Homo sapiens: one gene and its partners. The protein of the gene in region 2 purifies or fractionates together with the protein of the main gene of each other region. This does not show direct contact. Each region holds a gene or a part of one and is shown on either strand. Other genes may lie near its edges. The genes, in order: ECPAS, TMEM267 and LNPEP.

Evidence for each region.
Region 1: the proteins of TMEM267 (region 2) and ECPAS purify together in Homo sapiens (affinity purification with mass spectrometry; 2 studies listed by BioGRID and IntAct, with this or other methods). This does not show direct contact.
Region 3: the proteins of TMEM267 (region 2) and LNPEP purify together in Homo sapiens (affinity purification with mass spectrometry; 2 studies listed by BioGRID and IntAct, with this or other methods). This does not show direct contact.

Annotation. Positions count from the first base shown.
Region 1 is NC_000009.12:111,480,990-111,489,358, reverse strand, and holds the start of ECPAS (proteasome adapter and scaffold protein ECM29), read left to right. Parts: upstream 1-4,975; 5' UTR 4,976-5,221; coding exon of another isoform or gene 5,222-5,243; intron 5,244-5,301; exon of another isoform or gene 5,302-5,374; intron 5,375-5,796; exon of another isoform or gene 5,797-5,815; coding exon of another isoform or gene 5,816-5,855; intron 5,856-5,957; exon of another isoform or gene 5,958-6,050; intron 6,051-8,369. UniProt on the Homo sapiens protein: Adapter/scaffolding protein that binds to the 26S proteasome, motor proteins and other compartment specific proteins. May couple the proteasome to different compartments including endosome, endoplasmic reticulum and centrosome.
Region 2 is NC_000005.10:43,452,196-43,460,173, forward strand, and holds part of TMEM267 (transmembrane protein 267), read right to left. Parts: intron 2,411-7,978; exon of another isoform or gene 2,260-2,410; intron 1,849-2,259; 5' UTR 1,775-1,848; coding exon 1,463-1,774; intron 1-1,462.
Region 3 is NC_000005.10:97,029,318-97,037,295, reverse strand, and holds part of LNPEP (leucyl-cystinyl aminopeptidase), read right to left. Parts: 3' UTR 1-7,978. UniProt on the Homo sapiens protein: Release of an N-terminal amino acid, cleaves before cysteine, leucine as well as other amino acids. Degrades peptide hormones such as oxytocin, vasopressin and angiotensin III, and plays a role in maintaining homeostasis during pregnancy.

The DNA of each region.
Region 1 (8,369 bases), on a different chromosome or scaffold from region 2:
GTTGAAACATTTCAGACGATGAGACTCTAAAATGTACTCTGAGTTCACAGGAATTAGAGAGTAAAATAGTGGAAGGATTCTAATCATGGTTGGAGATGGATGTTTCTGAGTGTGATTTTTTTTAGAAAGTGCAATATTTTAAGTCATGACATGGCTTTATGTGCAGTGAAATATGTCTTTAATAAATGACTGAAAAGAGCAGAGATGAAGATCTTAGGTTTGAACTACATTGGCTGGTTGGACCCAGTCCCTGACTTTTTCAGCAACCAAAACAAATGGCATGTGAGATTTATTTATGTAGAATTTTGGCTTGTCTGGAACTCTGGAGGTCCAAATTGAATTCAATTCCAAATTGAATCACTTGGGATAATTTAATTTTCTAGATAGTTTAGAATTAATCCTTTTAGGCACCCAAAATTTCTTATTACAATCGTTTTAGATGAAAAGCTTACTAAAATATGCTCCGTACTTGGTTTTTTGATGCTAATATACTTGACATAATTTTACTACATTTTTTTTCCTTTTTTGTAGAGACAGGGGCTATATTTCCCTAGGCTGGTCTTGAACTCCTGGCCTCAAGCCATTCTCCTGCTTCAGCCTCTTAAAATACTGGTATTACAGGTGTGAGCCATCGTGCCTGGCCGTAATTTTACTGTTTTATAAGGTTAGGATTAGCACCATGAATACCATCTATTCAAGAGAAATGACTCAGTGCATTTCGTACTTTATAAATACCCCCAGAATTTAATTTTTTAAATTTATTTAATTATTTAGACTGAGTTTCACTCTTGTCGCCCAGACTGTAGTGCAATGGCGCAATCTCGGCTCACTGCAACCTCCACCTTCCGGGTTCAAGCAATTCTCCTGCCTCAGCCTCTTGAGTAGCTGGGATTACAGGTGCGTGCCACCATGCCCAGCTAATTTTTTGTATTTTTAGTAGAGACGGGGTTTCTCCATGTTGGCCAGGCTGGTCCCGAACTCTTGACCTTAGATGGTCCACCTGCTTTGGCCTCCCAAAGTGCTAGGATTACAGGCGTGAGCCACCGCACCCGACCCAGAATTTACATTTTGAGTTCTTATATGTTCATTTATTTATGATTTTATTGTACAGATGGGGTCTTGCTATGCTGCCCTGGCTGGTCTCGAACTCCTGGCTTCAAGTTATCCTTCCACCTCACCCTCCTGAGTAGCTGGGATTACAGGTGTGAGCCTAGCTGCTGTTTCTTCTTTTTTTTCTTTTCTTCTCTTCTCTTCTCTTCTCTTTTCTCCTTCCTTCCTTCCTTTCTTTTTTGAGACAGGGTCTCACTCTGTTGCCCAGGTTGGAGTACAGTGGTGCCATCTCTGCTCATGGCAACCTCTGCTTCCCAGGCTCATGCAATCCTCCCATCTCAGCCTCTCCAGTACTGGGACCACAGGCGTGCACCACCACACCTGGTTAACTTTTTGATTTTTTGTAGGGACCATGTCTTGCTAGATTGCCCAGGCTGGTCTTGAATTCCTGGCCTCCAAGGATCCTCCTGCCTCACAGCCTTCCAAAGTCCTGGGATTACAGATGTGAGCCATTGTGCCTGGCCCAGCCTAGCTTAATAATTTGTATGCTTCTTTGTTTTTAGGTGTCTGTTAGCACTTGTCATCCATGTATCTGCCCAGAAGAAGAATGCTTTCAAATATTTTGCTTTAACGCTGGAAACAAGATTTTTAAAAATCTTGTTAGAACTGTATATGTGTTTGATGTGAAGACAGCCTACATGAGAGGAGAGGGGACAGGTTTTTAGTTCTTGGATTCTATGATATCCTATTTTGGTTTCTCAGTAGCCTCTTCTCTGGCTCCTGTTTTCCTCCTCACCCCAATTCCTTCTTGCCTCTGTTTTTGACAGCTGAAGTGAATTCTAGACAGGAACTATCTCAAGGCTGCTGTTATTCAAAACCTAAGTGTTTCATATGAACATGAAGCTATTTAGTGGGAAAAATGAACTACAAGTAGTTTGATGGAAGAAGCAAGTATAAAAAAGCTTAGAGCTTTACACAGTAGTGATCAGAAGTAGCACTGTAAGTTGCTATAAACTACTGTATGTAATGAGACTTTAAGATCTTTTTTTGCCTAACAATTCCACATCTACATCTAGAAATATGTGATTACATAAAGATATGTATAAGAATGTTTTACAGTAGTATTGTTTAGTAAAAAACTGTAAACAACCTAACAGCTCATCAATAGGGAAATGGTTAAATACATTTTGTTGGTACTTATCATGCAGCCATTTAAAAAAAAAATGAGGCCAGGCACAGTGGCTCACGCCTGTAATCCCAACACTTTGGGAGGCCAAGGCAGGTGGATCATTTGAGGTCAGGAGTTTGAGACCAGCCTGGCCAACATGGTGAAACTCCATCTCTACTAAAAATACAAAAATTAGCTGGGCGTGGTGGTACATGCCTGTAATCCCAGCTACTCAGGAGGGTGAGGCAGGAGAATCGCTTGAACCCGGGAGGCGGAGGTTGCAGTGAACTGAGATCGTGCCACTGCACTCCAGCCTGGGGGACAGAGCGAGACTCCCTCTCAAAAAAAAAAAAAAAAAAAAGAGGTAGTTCTGTACATACTGATCCTAGTGATTAAGCAAGCTGACTCTGAATCCACACTGCCCAGGTTCAAATCCCAGCTCCACCACTTACTTTCCAGTTTGTGGCACATTAGATGTGTTCCTCAACCATCCAGTGCCATAAAAATCCCTATTTCATAAGATTGTTGTGGGGGTTAGATGAATTCATCCAAGTAAAACACTAGAATGGTGTCTGGCATAATTATTATTCCATTAGCCATTATTATCATTACTGATATGAAAGGACACCTGTAATACATTATTTGGTGAAAAGATAACGTTACATAATATGGGAAGTAGAGTTCCATTTTTGTCAAAACTAACAAAAATCTGTGTACACACATTCATGTGATTTGTACACGCAGAGAACCTGGAATTTCTTCATAGGAGGAACTAAGGATTTGTTAACTAGTCTTGCCTGGAGGTTAAAATTGCCTAACGGCCAGGCATGGTGGCTCACACCTGTAATCCCAGCACTTTGGGAGGCCGAGGTGGGTGGATCACCTGAGGTCAGGAGTTGGAGACCAGCCTGGCCAACATGGAGAAACCCCGTCTTTACTGAAAACACAAAATTAGCCGGACGTGGTGACGCATGCCTATAATCCCAGCTACTCGGGAGGCTGAGGCAGGGGAATCGCTTGAACCCAGGAGGCGGAGGTTGCGGTGAGCCGAGATCGCGCCATTGCACTCCAGCCTGGGCAACAAGAGCGAAACTCCGTTTCAAAAAATAAAATAAAATAAATAAATAAATGAATAAAAATAAAATAAAATAACAAACCCATTGTTTTTTACTCAGATTCTGTATTTATCTGGGGTGGCTTTGGAAGGATCCATTTGAAATTATGGGAAGTCAAATTTCCCCAAACCAGTCTTTGGTGCAGCTACTTTCTATAGTCACGGAAACAGTAAGGAAAGGTTGAATGCACCAAACTGTTAATAGGGATTATTTATGGGCATGAGTGGGATGAGGGGGGATGGTGGGTATGCAGTTGGGAGAAGACCTGTATACACCTCTCTATTGTTTGTAAGTAGTTCATTGTGTATTTATTTTGGAGGCAACATCAAATAAAAGAGGAGCATACATGAAAAAAGGGGTTGGTTAACTTAGTGTAGTATGAAGTTACAAACAAAAAAGGGTGATGGTAGTGCAGTGTTTTGAATTAACATGGAACAATGTGTGTGAAGGAATAATTGATCCAGAACTTTATTGTAGAAACCTGTCCCCATCAAAGCCATACATGGGGCTGTATATATATGTCCAGAGAAAAGGTCTTCTGCACACTTAACTGTAACTGTTAGTCATAATTTCTCTGCAGAGTGGGATGGTGGGGCTAGGAGGAAGGACTTTCACTTTTAATTTTATGATACTCCAAATCATTTGCATTTTTTTTTTACAAAAATTATGTATAATTTTTCTTTTTTTTTTCTTTTTGAGACGGAGTCTCGCTCTGTCCCCCAGGCTGGAGTGCAGTGGTGCGATCTCGGCTCACTGCAAGCTCCGCCTCCCGGGTTCAAGCGATTCTCCTACCTCAGCCTCCCGAGTAGTTGGGATTACAGGCGCGCGCCTCCACGCCCAGCTAATTTTTGTATTTTTTAATTAGAGACAGGGTTTCACCATGTTGGCCAGGCTGGTCTCGAACTCCTGACCTCGTGATCCACCCGCCTAAGCCTCCGAAAGAGCTGGGATTACAGGCGTGAGCCACCGCGCCCGGCCCAAGATCATGTATAATTTCTATAACAAAAACAATAAAGGAAATAAAAATGTCTTCAGTGTTGTACCTTGTACTTGGCCTATGTTACAACAGGAATGACATATATTCCATTTTTAAGACATTACTTAGGGCTTTATAGATTTCTGCTTTAAGGAATAAATGCAATTTCAATCTATTTAAGACTTGATTTCTTCTTATATAAAAAAAGTATCTGATCTTGTATCTAATTTGTTATGACAGTACCATCACTTAAAGTACAGCAATTATGCAACCCCTGAATTTGAATTTCATTTTGCAAGTGTACATGACCTCACGGACAAAGCGAAGGCAGAAAGTTAAAATCAGCATATCGAAAATAAATCACTCTAGTTACCGAAAAGAACATAGGGTATCTGAACAAAATCTCAGAGCTCACATAGGCATAGATACTTCCATGTGAACTTTAGGAATCTTGCCTTATCTAACTTTTGCAGGGCTGAGTGGACCCCCTGCTCCCGCTAGCCGTTTTGGGAGCACCAGCCACCTCCACACCAGAACTGGGCTGTCGGGGGCCGCTGCGGCGCAGGGGCTCGTCCGGGACTGAGTCAGCGCCGGGGCCGAGAAGTTCGGCGGGAGGCGCAGGGCGGGGCTTCCTCCCGCCGACTCCGAGCCCGGCTCTACTTTTCTGAGTCCACGTCTCTTCCTTTGGACAGGCGTGTTTCCCCAGGTCGGGCCCAGCCAACGTGACAGCCGCAGACCTCGGAAAAGGGCGCTCCGGCCCCGCCTCGAGGATTTCCCCCGGCCGCTAGGGCAGCCCGGGCCCGCTCGGCCCAGCCCCTCACGGACTGCGGCGCGCGGCTCCCCGGGGCCCGGCCCGCCGAACGCCTCGCTCTACAGCCCTCACCTCGCGGCGCCGAGCGCAGCGTCCGCGGCATGGAGACCGGCTCCGACTCAGGTCAGAGGCCCGCCCCCGGGCCGCGGGGGACTGGCCCTGCGCGCGCGGCGGCGCGGTTAGGCCGGGCCGCCCGCACAGGCCGCCGCGTGTCGAGTCCGCGCGGGGAGCGCACGCGGGGCGGGCGGCGACAGGTGGGCAGGACGAGCCGCGAGCGAGCGAGGGCGGGCGGGCGCGCGAGGGGCCCGGCGGGGGGGCCGCTGGGAGGATGGCTCAGCTCTTTCTAAATATAAAACCGGCGTGAGTTGGGCGAGCGCGGCGCGGAGTCGCAGAGCCGCCGCGCGGGCCTGGCGCACGGGGATTCGGCCGCACAGACGGCGGCGGCGGCAGCGGCAGCGGCTCCGCAGAGGCGCGAGGCTGCGGGAGCGCCCGAGTCGCGAGCTCGCGGGGGCAGCGAAGGGCGACGCTCGCGACGCGGAGGACGCAGGCGGCGGCGGCGGGCGGGCCTCGGGGCACAGCGCGGTCCGCGCCGAGTGAACGGAGGCGGCTCGCGGCCCCTGCCGCACCGCGAGCCGCGAGCCCCCCGGCCGCGCCCTGCCCCCCCAGCCCCTCCCTCGTTCCCTCCCCGGCGCAACATGGCTGCGGCCGCCGCCTCCGCCTCCCAGGATGAGCTGAGTAAGTGCCGCGGCCGAACCTGCGGCCGCGAGCCGGAACGGGCGCCGCGCGGTGCCGGGGGCCGGCGGCCGCATGAGGGCTGGGGCGCCAGGCCCGGTGGGCGGGCGGCGGCCGCGGCGTACGGGGAGCTGGGGAGCCCGGGCCTGGCGGACGGGCGGGGCGCGGACCGTCGCCGCTGGCGTTTGTAGGCCTCAGGTTTGCACCGTCACGTTGCGAAATTGAAACCGGAGCCCCGGGCGGAGCCACCTCTGCCCGCGATCCGCCCTGGCCCGGGGTCGGGGGAGCCCAGCCCCCTGCCCACTGAGCCTCGGCTGGCGGGAGGGCCGGAGCCCCGGGGTGACGGGCAGTGTCCGCCCGTCCCGTCTGACCCCGCCTGGCCCCGGGTCCCCGACGGCTGGTTGAGTTATAGAAATGGAGCTTTCGGGAAGGGGGAGAAGGTGCCTTTTTGTGACACTCTAGTAATCAGCCGAAAGGTCACGAATAGGCGGTGACCCTCAGATGGAGCAGGGAGGGCGGAGAGGGTCGCCGGTCGAACCGCAGGAGAAACCACGGGGTGACAGCGCTTTCAGAAAGGAGAGTTAGTGCCCCCTCGATCGTACGCGGTGCAGCCTTCCCGGGGACGGCGGTCCCTGTCTGGGGAGAGCGGTGGTCACCCTGAATCCCAGGCCGCCCCGCCCGCCGCCGGGGTTCGCCTCAATGCTTTGTGGGAAGTGTAGTTCCGGGGCGCCGCGGACCCACGCTGGGGTCATAAATACCGAAGTTTCATAGGACATAGGACATGTGAGATAATTTCTGATTGCGTTTTGAGTGTTCTCCCCCCCAAGGGTTTTCTTTCTTTCCCTTTTTTTTTTTCTCCCAATGCTGCCCTTCAGTTTATGGCAAAAACAAGAAAGGTGTTATTTGAAGATGATGTGGGTTTTAAATGGAATAAAGCATGGGTGAGGTGTTGCAAGCTTTATGAAGCTTACGTTGTTAAAGCCGCTTCTGAATTTCCATATGAAAGTAGTTATACACGTAATGTATGTTTTTCTGGTGCTTGTCAGTTTAAAGCCACTTTTATATACATGATCTCACTTTTGCCCTCATAGCAACCTTGTGAGGCAGATAGGTAGGAATTATCCTTGTTTTAAAGAGGAGGCAGGTTTGGAGAGATTAAGTTCCTTGCTGCTTTGACACAGAACTGGTGGAGCAGGAGTACTGTTTGCTTTTTTTGAAGCTGAAGTAAACACTTGGTGTGATCCTGAGCAGATTGGAGAGTCGGAGGAGACAAGGTCTCATGGTGCGATTAGAGAGAGAAGCGGGCTACAGATTGCTCTTCTGTCGGTTCCACGTGGAAGCACCACCAGGCCTTCTGAGATCAGTTCCATGTTTTGTTTTAATTGGAAGAAAAGTACACATACCATAAAATTTCCCGTCCTAGCCATTTTTTAAGTGTACAGTTCAGTGGGATTGAGTACATTCACACTGTTGTGTAATCATCACCACCATCCATTTCCAGAACTCTTCGTCTTGTAAAACGGAAACTTGATACCCATTAAACAACAAATCCTCATTCCCTCCTCCCTTCGGCCCCTGGCGACCATCATTGTACTTTCTGTCCCTGTGATTTTGAGTATTCTTCCTACCTCGTGTGAATGGAATCATACAGAATTTGTGACTGGTTTTATCTTTATTTAGCATAATGTCCTCAAGGTTCATCCATGTTGTTGCGTGTGTCAGAATTTCTTTTCCTTTTAAAGGTTGAATGATATTCCCTTGTATGTATATATCACATTTCCTTGTCCATCTATCTGTCTATGGACACTTGGGTTGCTTCCACATTTTAGCTATTGGGAATAATGCTGTTGTGAACATGGGTGTACAGATACCCCTTTGAGACCTTGCTTTCAGTTCTTTTGGGTACATACCCAGAAATGTAATTGCTGGATCATGTGATAGTTCTAGTTTTAAATTTTTAAGGAACCACTGTACTGTTTTCTTTTTTCTTTTTTTTTTCTTGAGACCAAGTCTTGCTCTGTCGCCCAGACTGGAGTGCAGTGGCGCGATCTCCGCTCACTGTAAGCTCCGCCTCCCAGGTTCACGCCATTCTTATGCCTCAGCCCTCCGAGTAGCTGGGACTGCAGGCGCCCGCCACCACGCCCGGCTAATTTTTTGTATTTTTAGTAGAGACGGGGTTTCACTGTGTTAGCCAAGATGGTCTTGATCTCCTGACCTTGTGATCTGCTGTGATCCACCCGCCTCGGCCTCCCAAAGTGCTGGGATTACAGGCGTGAGCCACCGCGCCCGGCCCCCACTGTACTGTTTTTGACAGTGGTTGTACCATTTTACATTACCACCAACAATACACAGAGTTCTAATTTCTCTATATCCTGGCCGACACTTATCTATATTGTCAGTAGTAACCATCCTGTTGGGTGTGAGGTGGTCTGATTTTTTTTCAATTGCTATGCTGTATGACATCTGAGTTCCTGTTGTAGAACCAAACACATTAAAGTCTGAATTGATAGCAGGAAT
Region 2 (7,978 bases):
GTGTCCTTCAGTGGATGACTGGATAAAATGTGATTGATATATAATCACACCATGGAACACTACTTGCCCATACAAAATAATAAAATCGTGTCTTGTACAGCAACATGGATGGAACTGGAGGCCATTATCCTTAGTGAAATGATGCAGAAACAGAAAGTAAAAAAGACACACATGTTCTCACTTGTAAGCGAGAGCTAAACAATGGGTACACATGGACATACAGAGTGGAATAACAGACACTGGAGACTCCAAGAGGTGGGAGAGTGAGAAGAGGTGAGAGATAAAATACTATTTGTACAGCATTAGAGTGACAGGTACACTAAAAGCTCAGACTTTACCGCTATGCAATACATACACGTTATACAACTGTGCTTGTGGCCCTAAATCCATAAAAAAAAAAAAAAAAACTGAAGAAAAGAAAAGTACTCTACTAACACCAAACAACCAGGATTCAAACTCAAGTCTTCTCATTTCAATCTTAAACAAAATGTTATGCTAACTCTACTTATAGCACAAAAGTTTGTCTTTAATTAGCAATTACTGATTCTTTACTGATTAAGTTTCTAAATAAGTGAATCAATTTCTGAGAAATACCTGGTACTTGACGCATAATAGGAAAAAGTGAATATTTCTCATTCATTCCACAAATATTTCCTGAATATCTACTAGGTAAGCCAGGCATTGTTCTAGGCCAGGGGTGAATGAAACAGAAAGTCCTTGCTCTATGAGTTTAGATTTCTTTCCTGAAATGTTTATAGATCATAAGCACGTAAAATATAGGCAAATCTTCTGACATTTAGAAAATATTATCTGAACCAACATTTTAAGTTTAGTTCATTTGTGAACTATATAACTGAACTCCTGAATGCCTCAGTGAAATTCCTCAATTTCTTCACAAGGGACTGTGTTCTAGCCAGTCCAGTTGAAATACATGCCTTTCGCTCCAAAAGGGACTGGGAGAATTAATCTGTTCAAGTCATTCCTTAGGACTGGGAATCATCTTAAAGCTATTCAACTTTTATGGAGTACTTAGGAGCTGCATACTAACTGTAAAACATAAAGAATAAGGGGGAAATGTTAAGTGTGCTCCTGAAGAAAGTACACTGATACAGAAAGAACTAGGACAGCCTTGAGAATCACCCCTGTTAATTTAAACCGGTTTGCTAATACTTTCTTCAAGACCTGGCTAAACGCATCCTCTGTAAGCCAGCACTGAACTCTTTAGGTACAGTTCGTGGGTCTTTGCTCTATGTGAATCCATAGCAGTTTGTGATGGCAAATAATTTGATTAGCAACATGTCTGTGTGCATCTTTAGGCAAGTACTAAGTGGTCAAAAAGGTTACATGAATGTGCTTTCCTATTTTAAGACAAATCCTCTCTAGTTCTAAATGATGCTGTAAAGATCAGCAAAATAGTGCTAAGGAAATTAAAGATCAGAAAAATTAAGCCTATGCTTTTTACCTTTAAAGACATGGATCCAGCTAGAAAAAAGTGGTCTACATCAATAACAGAGGCTAAAAATCCAGCTAAAATGATTTCTCCAAAGTCAGTCTTCTTCTTGATTCCAGTGACTACCGCCCATGACCACATGCCAATTACACAATGTACTGCATTATCTGAGAGAGCACGAAGCCAGTCATTTTGCTGAATTGTGGAAAACTGAAGAAGTCTGTCAGCTACGAGGCAAAATGCCCCCAGACCAAGGCTGGAAATAAGAGATTCAGTGCTACAAGTCTGCAGTAAAGCATGGGTCTTTTCAGTCTCGGATGCCATGACAAACAATATGTTAGTATAGACTAAAAGCCATCAGGAATGAACAGTCTATTCTTGTTTACATTTCCAGCACCCTAAAGGAGAAAGTAGAGAAAAATATGAATGAAGATTATGGACTACCATATAATATTTAAACAAAACAGTATCAGCAATAATTTCACAAACATAAAACCAAGATGTAAATACTGGCAACTTTTACATGTTATATATAATATGTCACATAGCCCAAGGAGAATAGATTTTTTTTTTTTTTTTTTTTTTAGGAAGAGCAGGGTACATGGTATGTATCAAGGAGAATTTCAGAAAGCCCACCAACTGCAATCTATTGCTTTAAGGTCATCAAATAGATCTATCTCCCAGCTGTGTGTAGTACATGGTGGTGAATATCCGTTGGGTTTGTGTACCCAACAACTACTTTCCATACTTCTGACAACAGTAATCCCTTCCTTTGGGAAAACTTTCTCACATTAAACTCCAGAGCTCACCAATTAGAGTTTTCCATTTCCCTAATAATGGTGACTAATCTAGTAATGAAAGTGGTCCAGGCTGAGCCAATCAGATTCCTTTCCAAAATTTGTCTTGTGGTAGAGAAAGTTCCTCTTCTTGGAGGCCATGGGCTCCACTACACGAAATAGCCTAGGAAAATAAAATCCCAGAGAGACACAAAGGAGAAAGGCTAATAGAATCATGATGACAGTGAGTACTTATGTCCAACGTCTAAAGGTTCTCAGAGCTACCCTAGATCTTGCAGCTCCCCCTCCACTTCAATGAGCTACCCCAACATTTTCCCATCAAATCCCCTTTACATTTCTGATGCCTTGAACCAAATAACCTTAATTGATATAAAAATGCAATCATAATTCTATGCTGAGTTCTCACATGGCACAGAATATTGACATTATTTACCTAGCTAGAAAATATTTGTCTACCTAAAGTGTGACACATGAAGTTTTTTCTTTTACATTGTTTTGTTTTAATCCTGAGACTAAAGAATAACTGATTTATTGATAATGACTCAACTTCTATTACACAATAAAAGCTATACATAGCTCATTATATATATTCTAAAACTGCAGAGGACCTAGAAGAATAAAACAATTTTGAAAAACAGAAACTAAGTTGGAGGACTACTTATGCCATCTTATTTTAAGTTTCATTATAAAGCTACAGTAGGCTGGGCACAGTGGCTTACACCTGTAATCCCAACACTTTAGGAGGCTGAGGCAGGAGGATTGCTTGAGGACAGGAGCTCGAGACCAACCTGGGCAACATAGTGAGACACTGTCTCTACAAATAATAAAAAATTAGCTAGGCGTGGTGGTGCATGCCTGTAGTCCCAGCTACTTGAGAGGCTGAGGTGGGAGGATCGCTTAAGCCCCGGAGGTTGAGGCTGCAGTGGGCTGTAATCGTGCTACTGCATGCCAGCCTGGGCAACACAGAGACCCTGTCTTAAAAAAAAAAAAGCTACAGTAATCAAAACAGTGTAGTATTGGTATAATGACAGACATACAGACTAACAAAACAGAATACAGAGTGGGATCAGAAATAGAACCAAACATACCTAGTCAATTTTATTTATTTATGTATTTATTTTTTGAGATGGAGTCTCACTCTGTCACCCAGGCTGGAGTGCAGTGGTGTGATCTTGGCTCGCTGCAACCTCTGCCTCCTGGGTTCAAGCAATTCTCCTGCCTCAGCCTCTCAAGTAGCTGGGATTACAGGTGCCCGCCACCATGCCTGGCTAATTTTTTTGTTTGTATTTTTAGTAGAGATGGGTTTCACCATGTTGGCCAGGCTGGTTTCGAACTTCTGACCTCAAGTGATCCACCCACCTCAGCCTCCCAAAGAGCTGGGATAATAGGCGTGAGCCATCGTGCCCAGCCAATTTTTTTTTATTTAAGACAGAGTTTTACTGGAGTGTAGTGGCACAGTTATGGCTCACTACACCCTTTACCTCCCACGTTTAAGAAGTTCTCCTACCTCAGTCTCTTGAGTAGCTGGAGCCACAGATGTGTGTCACCATGCCTTTTTTTTTTTTCAAAGAGACAAGGTCTCCCTGTCTCTAGAGAGGCCTCGAACTCCTAGCTGGTCTCGAACTCCTGGCCTCAAGTGATCCTTGGCTTCCCAAAGTGCTGAGATTACAGGCATGAGCCATCATGCCCAGCCTGGTCAATTAATTTTTGATAAAGGTGCAAAGATAAATCAATGGAGGAAGAATATTCTTTTCAACAAATGGTGTGAGAACAAATGGATATCCATATGCAAAAATCATAAACCTGAATCTATATCTTACTCCATATACAAAAATTATCTCAAAATGAATCACAAACCTAAATGTAAATAAAACATAAAAAGATAAAATTTCTGGAAAAAAACATAAAGTATTTTTGTGTCCTTGGGTCACGCAAAGAGTTATTAGATAAAATACCAAAAGCTTGATCCATTAAAAAATTGGTAAGTTGAACTTATCAAAATTAAAAGCTTCTGATCTTTGAAAGACAATGTTAAGAGAAAGAAAAAACAATTTTTAAATCTTATATCTGATAAAGGACTTACATCCAGAATATATAAAGAACTCTCAAAACAGAGTAATAGGAAAACAAACCAATACAAAAATGGACAAAAGATGTGAAAATGGGTACCTACCATTGATGATATTCAGATAGCCAATAAGTATAAGAAATATGTTCATCACCATTAATTATTAGGGAAATGCAAATTTTAAAAATTAGATATCACACACCTGTTAAATGGCTAAAATTAAAGACTGACAATCCCAGATGTTGACAAAGATGTGGAGCAACCAGAACTCATACGCTGCTGGTCGGAATAAAAAACAGTATGACTATTTTGGAAAAACAGTTTTCCAATTTCTCAGAAAGTTAAACGTACTCTTACCATATAACCCAGTCATTCCACTTCTAGGTATTTTCCCAAAAGCTTATGTGTACACAAAGGCTTACACATGAATGTTCATAGCAGCTTTATCTGAATTTGTTCCAAGTTGGAAACAACTCAAATGTCCACAAACATGTGAATAAACAAAAGGTGGAATAAAAAGGAACAAACATGTGATACACATAAAAACATGAATGAATCTTGAAATGATTATAGTAAGTGAAAGAAGTCAAACAAACAAAAATTACACAGTTAAAACCCATAGAACTGTGCGACATAAAGGATGAACCCTAATATAAAGTATGGACTTTAGTCAAAAATAACATATCAATATTGGTTCCCTACTTGTATCAAATATACCACACTATTGCAAATATTAATAATGGGGAAAATGTATGCAGGGCAAAGGGCATCTATAAGAATTCTCTATAATATTGGCTCAATTTTTCTGTAAACCTAAAACTACTATTTAGGTTTATGTATTAGTCTGTTATTGCATGGAACTACCTGAAACTGGGTAATTTACAATGAAAAGAAGCTTAATTGGCTTACAGTTCTGCAGGCTGTACAGGAAGCATGGCTGAGGAAACCTCAGGAAACTTACAATCATGGTGGAAGGTAAAGAGGAAGGAGTCACGTTTTACATGGCCAGAGTAGAAGACTAAAGTGGAAGGTGCTACACACTTTAAACAGCCAGATCTCGTGAGAACGAACTCACTATCATGAGAACACCTAGGGGGATATCTGCCCCCATGAACCAGTCACCTCCCACCAGGCTCCTCCTCCAACACTGGGGATTACAATTTGACATGAGATTTGGGTGAGGACACAAATCCAAACCATATCAGTTTATAAAGTCTATTAATTAGAAAAACTTACAAAAACTTAAAAATAAAGTCAATTTATTTTAAAAAATTAAATAAATGAACCGCCAACAAATATTATAAATTTAAGTAATAGATGTACTGTAGTTCATTATATTTTTCTCTATTTTTCTGTATGTTTGAAATTTTCATTTAGAAATGTTTTTATTAAATTTATTTATTTTGAGGACAGGGTCTCACTGTGTTGCCCACACTGGAGTGCAGTGGCTTGATCTTGGCTCACTGCAACCTTGACTTCCTAGTCTCAGGTGATCCTCCCACCTCACCTCCTGAGTAGCTGGGACTACAGGCATGAGCCATCATGCCTGGCTATATGTTTCCATTTCTATTTATTTAATTTAAAAAATTCTTTCTTTCCTTAATTTTTGAGACAGGGTCTTGCTCTGTTGTCCAGGCTGGAGTGCAGTGGTGTGAATATGGCTCACTGCAGCCTCTATGTCCTGGGCTCATGAGATCCCCCTGCCTCAGCCTCCTGAGTAGCTGGAATCACAGTCACAGGCCACCATGCCTGGCTAATTTTTAAATTTTTTTGTAGAGATGGAATTTCACCATGTTGCCCAGGCTGGTCTGCAGCTCCTGGCCTCAAGCAATCTTCCCACCTCAGCCTCCCAAAGTGCTGGGATTACAGGCGTGAGCCACTGAACCTGGCCTAGAAATATGTTTTTAAAAAGAGTGCATAGTATAATTCTACTTATTTAAAAGTCTACAAAATACAAACTAATTTATAGTGACAGAAAGCAGATCCATGGTTTCCTGAAGACAGTAGAGGCAGGAATGATTAAAAAGGAGAATAAAGAAACTTTGGTAAGGGACGCATATGTTCATTATCTTGACTGTGGTGATAGTTCCATGGTTCACAGTTTCATACATATGTCAAAACGTATCAAACTGTATATTTTAAACATATACAGTTAATTACATGTCAATTATACTCCAACAAAGATGTTAAAAAGTTAGGAAGGTACACTTCATTGATTATAAAACAGCAGGCTTTTGTAAAAAAGGAGAAATATGAAAACAAGAAACTATGGAAATGAAAAAGTTGATTACCCAAATAAAAACTCAATGCAAAGTCTACTATGCACTGAAGGAATGCACAGTGGCGTGAATCTTTCAAACATCAAAATTAGTAAATGAGAACATTTGCAAATAATTTTTCCAAAGCTTAAGGGGAAAATATAAGACAAAGAGTTGGGCATTGAAAAAAAATTTCCAAAAATAAAGAGAAAACCTTTAGAGTTTCTATGTCAAAAAAAAAAAATTATCTTCCAAAGAAAGAGAATGTGATTATCATCAACCCTAAATGTCAGAATACTGTGAGGTAACATTTACAGAACTCTGAGAGAAAAAGATCATAGACTGTAGCATTCTAAGCATAGTTAAATTATGGCACCTATGTGGCAACTGTGAATTTTAAAAGTTTTGCCTTAGAAATTATACACCCATGTATGATTTTGGGGGGTAGGGGAAACTGAGCAGTAGAACTTCTCAATCTCTAGCAGGAAGGGAGACAAATAAAGAAAATTTGATCAATACAGCAAGACAGAAAAGAAAAAAAAGAAAACCTTACTTCCCTCCAGCTCACCCCCACTCTGCAAAAAGCAATAGGGACCAAATAAAATACAAATACCACAACAAATGTGAATGTGTTAAATTTCTCTATAAAGAGACAAACATAATCAGATTGGGGCAAAAGAAAACATCACTAAATTATTGTTCAAAACAAAACACCTCAAACAAAAAGTCTTCACAATATAGAAAATAAAGAGATGAGAAAATATATGTCTAAGAAATACAAACAAAATTAAGTAGCAATGGTAATATTAACTGCAAACACAGAATTCAAGGTAAAAATGATTAATTAGAACTGAAAAGGATAAAATATTCACATCACAGTAAAGTTCTATGGGGTAAGAGGATGCTTACATGTCAAACAACAGCAGCAAAAAATTAAGTGGTCAATAAAAGGCATAATCTGAATAATATAATTTATAAATTTTATTTCATACTCAGGTATACAACTTCATATGCTATGAAGCAGTGGTCCCAGTCCTTTTTGGCACCAGGGACTGGTTTTGTGGAAGACAATTTTTCCATGGACTGTGGAGGGGGATGGTTTTGCGATGATTCAAGTGCATTACATTTATTGTGTACTTTATTTCTATTATTATTACATTGTAATATATAATTAAATAATTACACAACTCAACATAATGTAGAATCAGTGGGAGCCCTTAGCTTGTTTTCCTGCATCTAGAGAGTTCCATCTTAGGATGGTGGGAGACAGTGACAGATCATCAGGCATTAGATTCTCATAAGAAGCACGTGACCTAGAACTCGCATGTGCAGTTCACAATAGGTTCACTCTCCAATGAGAAGCTAACGCTGCCACTGATCTGAAAGGAGGTGGAGCTCAGGCAGT
Region 3 (7,978 bases), about 54 Mb from region 2:
AAATTTAGAATTCCACCCACAAGCTCAGACTCAAGGAATTGAAGATCTCTATAGGTGTTTAAATATAAAAATGTAATACCTTTACAAGTTTCCAAGTAACTACTTTCCAAAGTATTTGAAAGAGGCTATTCTTCACAGCAACATGGAACACTTGGCTTTAATCAAGACAGCTGTAAAACTAAGTTTTGTCTCAATGTGAGTTTGTTGATTAATGCAAATGCTCCAATTATGCCATAATTCTCATTTTATATACACATACATACACAGCGTATTATTGTACTGATGGTTTACACAGTCCAATTTCTGGAGCATTTCCTTCAGCTAAGCCATGACCTTTACTTCCTTTGAAGTATTTTAAATTAAGAACTGTTCAGAAATATCACTAATGACTACCATGACTAACTCCAAAAAGGTGCCCTTTTTTCTTTTATTTATGATCAAATGTAAATGTGTCATGAATAAACTTATTTTTTTCTATGGCAGCAGGTATAAGTAATAGCAAAGTATAGGCTACTTTTTCAACACTAGAATCTGAGAGTTTGATATACAGTATGTAACATTTCTTTGCAAATTTTCTAGGAGTTCTATCACTCAATGTTTCCAAAATAGTAATATGGCAAATCTTCAGCATGGAGTAGTAGTATCAGAAATGGGAAAACAAACAATGCTAAGAGGCCTGAAGGAAGGGAGGAGAGCAGAGAGGGAGGGAGGGAGGATGTGTGCCCATGCATTTTCCCTGATGCAGACAAATGTGGAGTTTTAACATTTACCATATGGTAGATGAGGAGACAGTGTGATATAAGAATGCTTAAAGCGAACATACAGGTCTGGATACATGATATGCACACAAAATACAAGGCTAATGAGGCAGCAATGGCTTAAATTTGTGAATGCCAGTGAAGAAAACACCTAACAGTATAGGCACTAAAGACAAAATGGAAAGCACACAATGGAGAACGGAGGAGAAAGATGCAGTCACACAAAAGACCTCTGGGTAAGAAAGGGCCAACTTGTCTTGCCACATGTGGGGGATGAAAGATAGAAAATTCCTTTTGGATTTAGTTTTGGGGCTCATGTTCTATTCATCAGAGCCATGTCAATAACTCGAAAGGGTCATTCCAAGACACAATTTCTACCAGGTACACAAGCTATGCAATTGATGGAATCATAATAGACTTCTATAGATGAATCAGAAGTCCAGGCCTCAAAAAGAAGCTACTCTTAACGGTTTGCAAATGCGTTCTAGACAGCACTCTTATTGGCTTATCAGCTTCGCCGGTTTACCAGTTACTAAAAGATATATGAGCAATGAAGTTTAAACACAGCTTTATTCAATATTGTCCTCTTGCCTTTCTAGAATTTACAAAAGCACAGGTCCCTTTTCACTACCTCATTCAATCTGAATCAACATAAGAAATGCTGGATCTAATTAGCTTTCACAACTCAACCATAGCTGAGTGTCTTCTCCTGTCTTATCTGCTGCACACCTGTTGCTATTAGTTACATTAATACACTGCTACACCTTCCAGCCAGATGGCAGGGATTTAGTAGGTCTTTATTTTTGTTAGGTATAGTCAGACCCCTTGCAAGGGACTAAGTGTTAAAGGAAAATAATGGCGGAAGAAAGAAGCAAATGATATATATGCATCTACACACTTGCATCCTTAATGGAATAGATCCTAGAGAATGAAATAAAATAACCACAAAATAACTACACTAGCTACTGCTAAGTGAGGAAATATGTAGGAAAAGAAGTGAGCTGTCATATTATGAAACTCGACTTTCATTAGGTCCCTACATAGCCATGCAAAAGACTACAAAATGAAATAAAGATATGAAAACATATTAAGAATATTCCCCTACCAAAAATAGAAATCTCTCTAAAACAGACAAGTAAGTAAACAACACACAACTATTCTACTTCCTATTGCCGACACAGGCAATAAGGAAAGGGGAGGATGGGAGATTTGTCATACACTGATCCTCGATTTTCATTAGGTACCTATATATCCATGCAAAGGACTAGGTACAAAACCAATAACATGAAACATTTATATACATCTTTAAAAAGTATAGACACTGTCCTTTCCCCCTGACTATTACCCACCCAAAGAACCCCTCCCCATAAAAAAAAATTAAACAATAAAAAACCCAAGATATGAAACTATTGCCCCTGTAGGCAATGAGGGAAGGGAAACAGGAGAGTTATCATACGTCTGGACCTCCATGTTTCATTATGTACATCCATGTCCCAGCAGAGGACTGGGTACCACATTATATAACACACAGAATGTAGCAAATATTTATATACATTAAAATGTGTGTGTATAGTATATAAATATGTGTGTTCTTGTGTGTATATACACACACATATACACTCAGACACCCCCAAAAGAAACCAAACATCTATTCTACCATTGCCCCCTAGGCAATGAGGGATGGGGAGTATGGGATATTTTTCATAGAGTCAATCTCAACTTTATTACTATTAAGTACCTAAGTGGTCATACAAAGGACCAGATTCAAAATGAAGTTAACATCAAAAAGGAGCAAAACATTTATATACATTAAAAAAATTATATATCTTGCCTTTTCCTCTCAACAATCCCACTCCTCATTAAAACCCTCAAAAGCAAAAAACCAAAACCCAAGCCCTGTAGTGCTCACATACTACTTGCTTGTGTATACAGGCTCTGAGGAAGGCAAAGAATATTTACCACACTCTCGGGTCTGGGTCCCTCATTACATTTGATTCCTACAACTCCAAACAAAAAACTGTGTTGAGAGTGAAAGAACAACAATAACAACAACTAGCAAACTTTTATATACATTAAAAAAAAGACAAACCCAGAAATTCCCCACCTCCCCTACCAAAAAAAAAACAAAAAAACAAAAAAACAAAATCCCTTAAATAACTACTCTACTGGCCATTGCCAAGACAGGCAATAAGGGAAGGGGAGAAGGGGAGATTTTTTCATAGAATGAACCTCAATTTTCATTACGTACCTAAGTATCCATGGAAAGGCCTTGGCACACAATGAAGTAACAGGAAAAAGGAGCAAGAACATTTATATACATTTCTAAAAGTGCACACCCCATCCTCCTGGAGATAGGCAGATGGATAAAAAAGAAAAACCATCTATACTACTCTATAATTATTGCCTACAGAGGCAATAAGGAAAGGGGAAAAGAGGAGATTTTCATACATCCGGACCTCCACGTTTCATTAGGTACCCGTAAGTCCAAGCAATGGACTGGGTACAGCATGAAATAATACAATATAGTTAATGAAAAGTATATATACATTTTTAAAAAGGATATATTCTGCCTTAGACCCCTCCCACCCCTCAAAACTTAAAAAAATCCAAACTACTTTAAAATTATTGCCCATATACATTAAAAGGGTAAAGGGAGAACAGATTGTTATACATCCATAACTCCATGGCTCATTAGGAACCTACACATCCAAGTGAAGGACCGGGTACCCAATGAAACACTATAATAAAGAAATAAAAATATGTACATACATATACAAAAGTATATACCCCAACACCCACCAAAGAATCCCTGAAGCTAATCAACTACTCTCTTAGACACCTGCCCACACAGACAATCTAAGGGAAGGGCAGAAGAGGAGAGCTGCTACAGGCTGAACCTCAATTTTCTTCATATATCCATGTAAAGGACAAGGTAAGAAAGGTAGTGACAGAAAAGTAGCAAAAACATTTATATACATGTTTAAAGTATATACTCTTACCTTGAAACCTCTCCTAGCAAAAAATTTTCTCTCTCCTAGCAAAAAATCTTCAATAAACCCAAACTACTCTTAAGTATTGCCCACATGGGCAATAAGGGAAAGGGAAAAGAGGAGACTGTTATACATCCGGAACTCCATGGTTCATTAGGTACCTTTCAGTCTGGGCACCCGATGAATTAATACAATGTAGTAGTAAAAACATGTATATACATTAAGTGCATTTTCCTACCTTCCCCGTCCCTCCCCCTCACCTCAAATACGCCACTTGACAACTACTCTGTTAGCTACTGCCCAGCAGTCAATAAGGGATGAGGAGAATGGGAGACTGTTATACATCGAGATCTCCACATTTCATTGGTACTTTCACATCCATGAGAAGGACACAGTGTGAACCAAATTAGTAATACAATGTAGTAGCAAGTTTATTTATATACATTAAGTACATACTCCACTCTCCCCCACACCCCAAAACAAAACAAACTACTCTATTAGCTATTGCCTAAATAGGCAGTAAGGAAAAGGGAAAAGAGATTTGTCATACTCTGAACCTCAATTTTCATTAAGTATATATGCATCCATACAAGGAAACAAGTATAAAATGAAGTATAAAAAGGTGGCACAATATTTATACACACTTGAAAGAATAATATACAACCCCAGCCCCAAGACTAGATCAAAACAACAGCAACTAGGACTACTCTGTCAGTTATTGTCCATGCGAACAATAAGGAGAAACGCAAAGGGGACATCTGTCATGCTTTTGGACCACCGCGTTTTATCTACACGTCCACAAAATGGATGAATGAAATACAAAATGAAATAACACAAAATAGCAAAAACATCTGTACACACTTTTAAAAGAATATAGCTTGCTCTCCTCTCAACATCACCACCTTCTTCCAAAGAAGGAAACCAAATAACTAGTCTGTAGCTACTGCCCATACAGGTAAAATGGGAAGGGTAGATGAAATTTTCATAGGATGATATATCACTCTTCATCAGGAAAAAAATATACAAAATGAAATAATATAAAAACTATCAAAAACATGTATGTACATTTTTAAAGTATATACTCCCAAAAAAACCACTGAAAAAAATCGATCAACTTTTCCATTAGCTGTCACCCACACAGGCAATAAGGTTAAGGGAGGAGATTTACCATACTTTTGAACCGCTACTTTTCAGGTAGTACTTAACTGGCAAAGCAGGGAATGGAGCACAAAATAAAAGAATGCAAAAACAAGCAAATATATATATAACTTAGTTTTTAAAAATACAAATGGGATGAAGGGGGAAGGAAGCTCTTTAAAAAGAGATTTAATTCCAATAAATACAAAAGTAACAAAGGCATAGGTGAGAAGAAAAGCTATGTCATATCCATGGCCTCAGTTTTTAGAGAGGCCTAAGTAACAAAATCCACATCTAGTTTTGCAGCCCAGGAAATGCTGTCCTTGGAGGTGGCTCATCTCAGATGTATTTGCCTTCCCTGAAGCCCCATGAAACATGGGGATTATGTGAATGTTTAGCAATCTGATGGCAGATTATGGTTCCAGGTACTTTGGTTTAAATAGACTCTTTTTAAAATCCATCTCAACAAACTGTCAGTAATCCAACAAAATCAACACTTAACTCTTTTTTTTTTGTTTTTTGTTTTTTGAGACAGTCTCGCTTTGTCACCCAGGCTGGAGTGCAGTGGCACAACCTTGGCTCACTGCAACCTCCGCCTCCTGGGTTCAAGTGATTCTCGTGCCTCCCAGGTAGCTGGGATTACAGGTGTGCACCACCATGCCCAGCTAATTTTTATATTTTTAGTAGAGATGGGGTTTTGCCATGTCGGCCAAACTGGTTTAGAACTCCTGGCCTCAAATGGTCTGCCCACCTTGGCATCCCAAAATGCTGGGATTACAGGCATAAGCCACCGCGCCCAGCCAACACTTAACTGATTTCTTATTTCCTAATAGAAAGGATTCTGTTTGGTATCCTATAATACTGATGCAGCTTGATTTGCTCTGTACACCCAGGAGTCTTCTGACAACTCTTGTGTTCCTGTGGTGGCTAATGTCCCACAAAATGGAAACACATATGGCAAGGAAAATTAAAGTAGAACCTGTGATAGTAAGAAAGTTCATGAATGCTGAAACAATGACAACAAAATTTCATTTAAAGAGACTTAAATAAAACAAGATGGAGGAAGGCCCAAGCTTATGGTGAAGCTGATACTACTTGCAGTTTAATATATCTAACCATTTTATATTAACAGAACAAACTGGACTTATCTAATTCCTACATTCATAACTTTTTTAGATCTCCAAAGCATAAACATTTCTTCCACAACTCAAGATTTCCAATTCTTTTTTAATAATCTAGTATGATGACCCTTTTATATTCAAGTAGATCTCTCTGCAATGAGAACACTTGTTCAACAAGTACTTGTGTCATGAATCTGTGTGCTTAAATAAAAGAAGCATACTGTGACTTCTGTGCTTCAGTCTGAGTTCTCAGAAATACACTGGCTAAGACAATGTTTTGAGAAGATAAAACTTTGAAAGCTACCATTATACCTATTACACTACAAGTTCTACCTCTCATTTAACCTTACATTCCTGACGTAGTTTTTAGAAGTCCTATATAGATGGGTTAGTTCAACATTAAAATTATGGAATTCTGTGGGAAAAACTGAGGCAAGGCCTACTAAAACTACAAATAATTAAGGTAAGGGCAACAACATCAAAAAAACTACAACTATTATGGATCTGGTATTATGGGAATGAACAGCCTTTGAGTAATAAAGATAGCAATGGATCATGAGTTATCTCTTTTTCAGGCCAAGTTTTGATAAAGTTTTACTCATAACAATACCCCCCACACTACACACACACACACACACACACACACACACACACACACACACACACACAGAGAGAGAGAGAGAGGGAGAGAAATGATATAATTCAAGACAAGATTTGCCATATGCAGAGTTAACTAACATACATTATAGGAGCGATGTCAAGAAGCACAGGTAAAACTGAAGAATCTTAAGTGATTTTGAGAAGTTACAAAATTTAAATTTTGTATCAAAGTGGAATTTAGTACCACATGGTAAAAAACCAGCAACGACAACAAAACTCTCAAAAGTTTAGTATTTTTCCCTCACTCTAAAAATATAAAAACACATTAACTTTCACTATCAACTAAATTATCATTCATTTAACCAAAGCACAAGAATAAAGACTTACAATCACTTCAGTTGAATAAGACATATTTAGATGATTCTGTGATTCTCAGGATATAATATTTTCTACTCTAAAACAGATAAATTTTAGAAAAGACTAAATTGGGGAAAACACACTAGGATTAAAGAAGACTATTTTTTTAGCTTACCAGCCTTTTAAATTTTATTATATAAAAATATTTTCATAAAATAAAATATAATTTTATTCACAATTCCATACATTCTAACTTGATACCTGCCGAATAAAAAAAGGGTGACCTTTCCCACTGTCTGACTCTGTGGAGTGTTTTAAGTGCTCACAAATGGGTAAATACCCTTTTTATGTACATAGAAACTGTTTTCAAACAAAATATAAAGTTCTCAAGAATTATTAGGAAGAAAGCTTTTCTCCTAAGAATCAAAGAAACACAACAATCTAGGTATAAGTCTGCATAGCTCAAAAATTCAAGTACAGTATTTCTCTTTCAGAAGGAGTAAAATGCCATACAGTTTCGGACATCCTCCCTCATTTTTCTTCTTTCCTTCTTTGACCACTCCTTTTATGTTAGTTTGGACACACAAAAAAAGAAAAACTACAATTTTTAACTAAACAAAAGCACTATTTTTGATAGTGAAAAAAATTCAAAGCCCACCATACTAAACACGAATTCAAGTTACTCCTATCCCACATTCTCTTTGTTCCTTTAAGGTACTATGGTGAACTTCAAATAATTGTTTTTCAATTTCTCAAAGGCTCTGTTTTAAAATATGCTTCTAATATGCTACACTATCATATAAAATGAAAATTCACACATGGGTATGATTCAGAGAGAAAGTTTCTATGATCTATGATGCCAAAAGGCAACTTAAATTGCATTCTTAGTGATAGTGATAAAAGTCACAATGAAAACCACTGGTGTTACCAAAATGCTTGCCACGAATGTAGAAATACTAACCTAAAGTATATCTACGGCAGGGAGTGATAAAGGTGTACAGATCTGGGGACTATC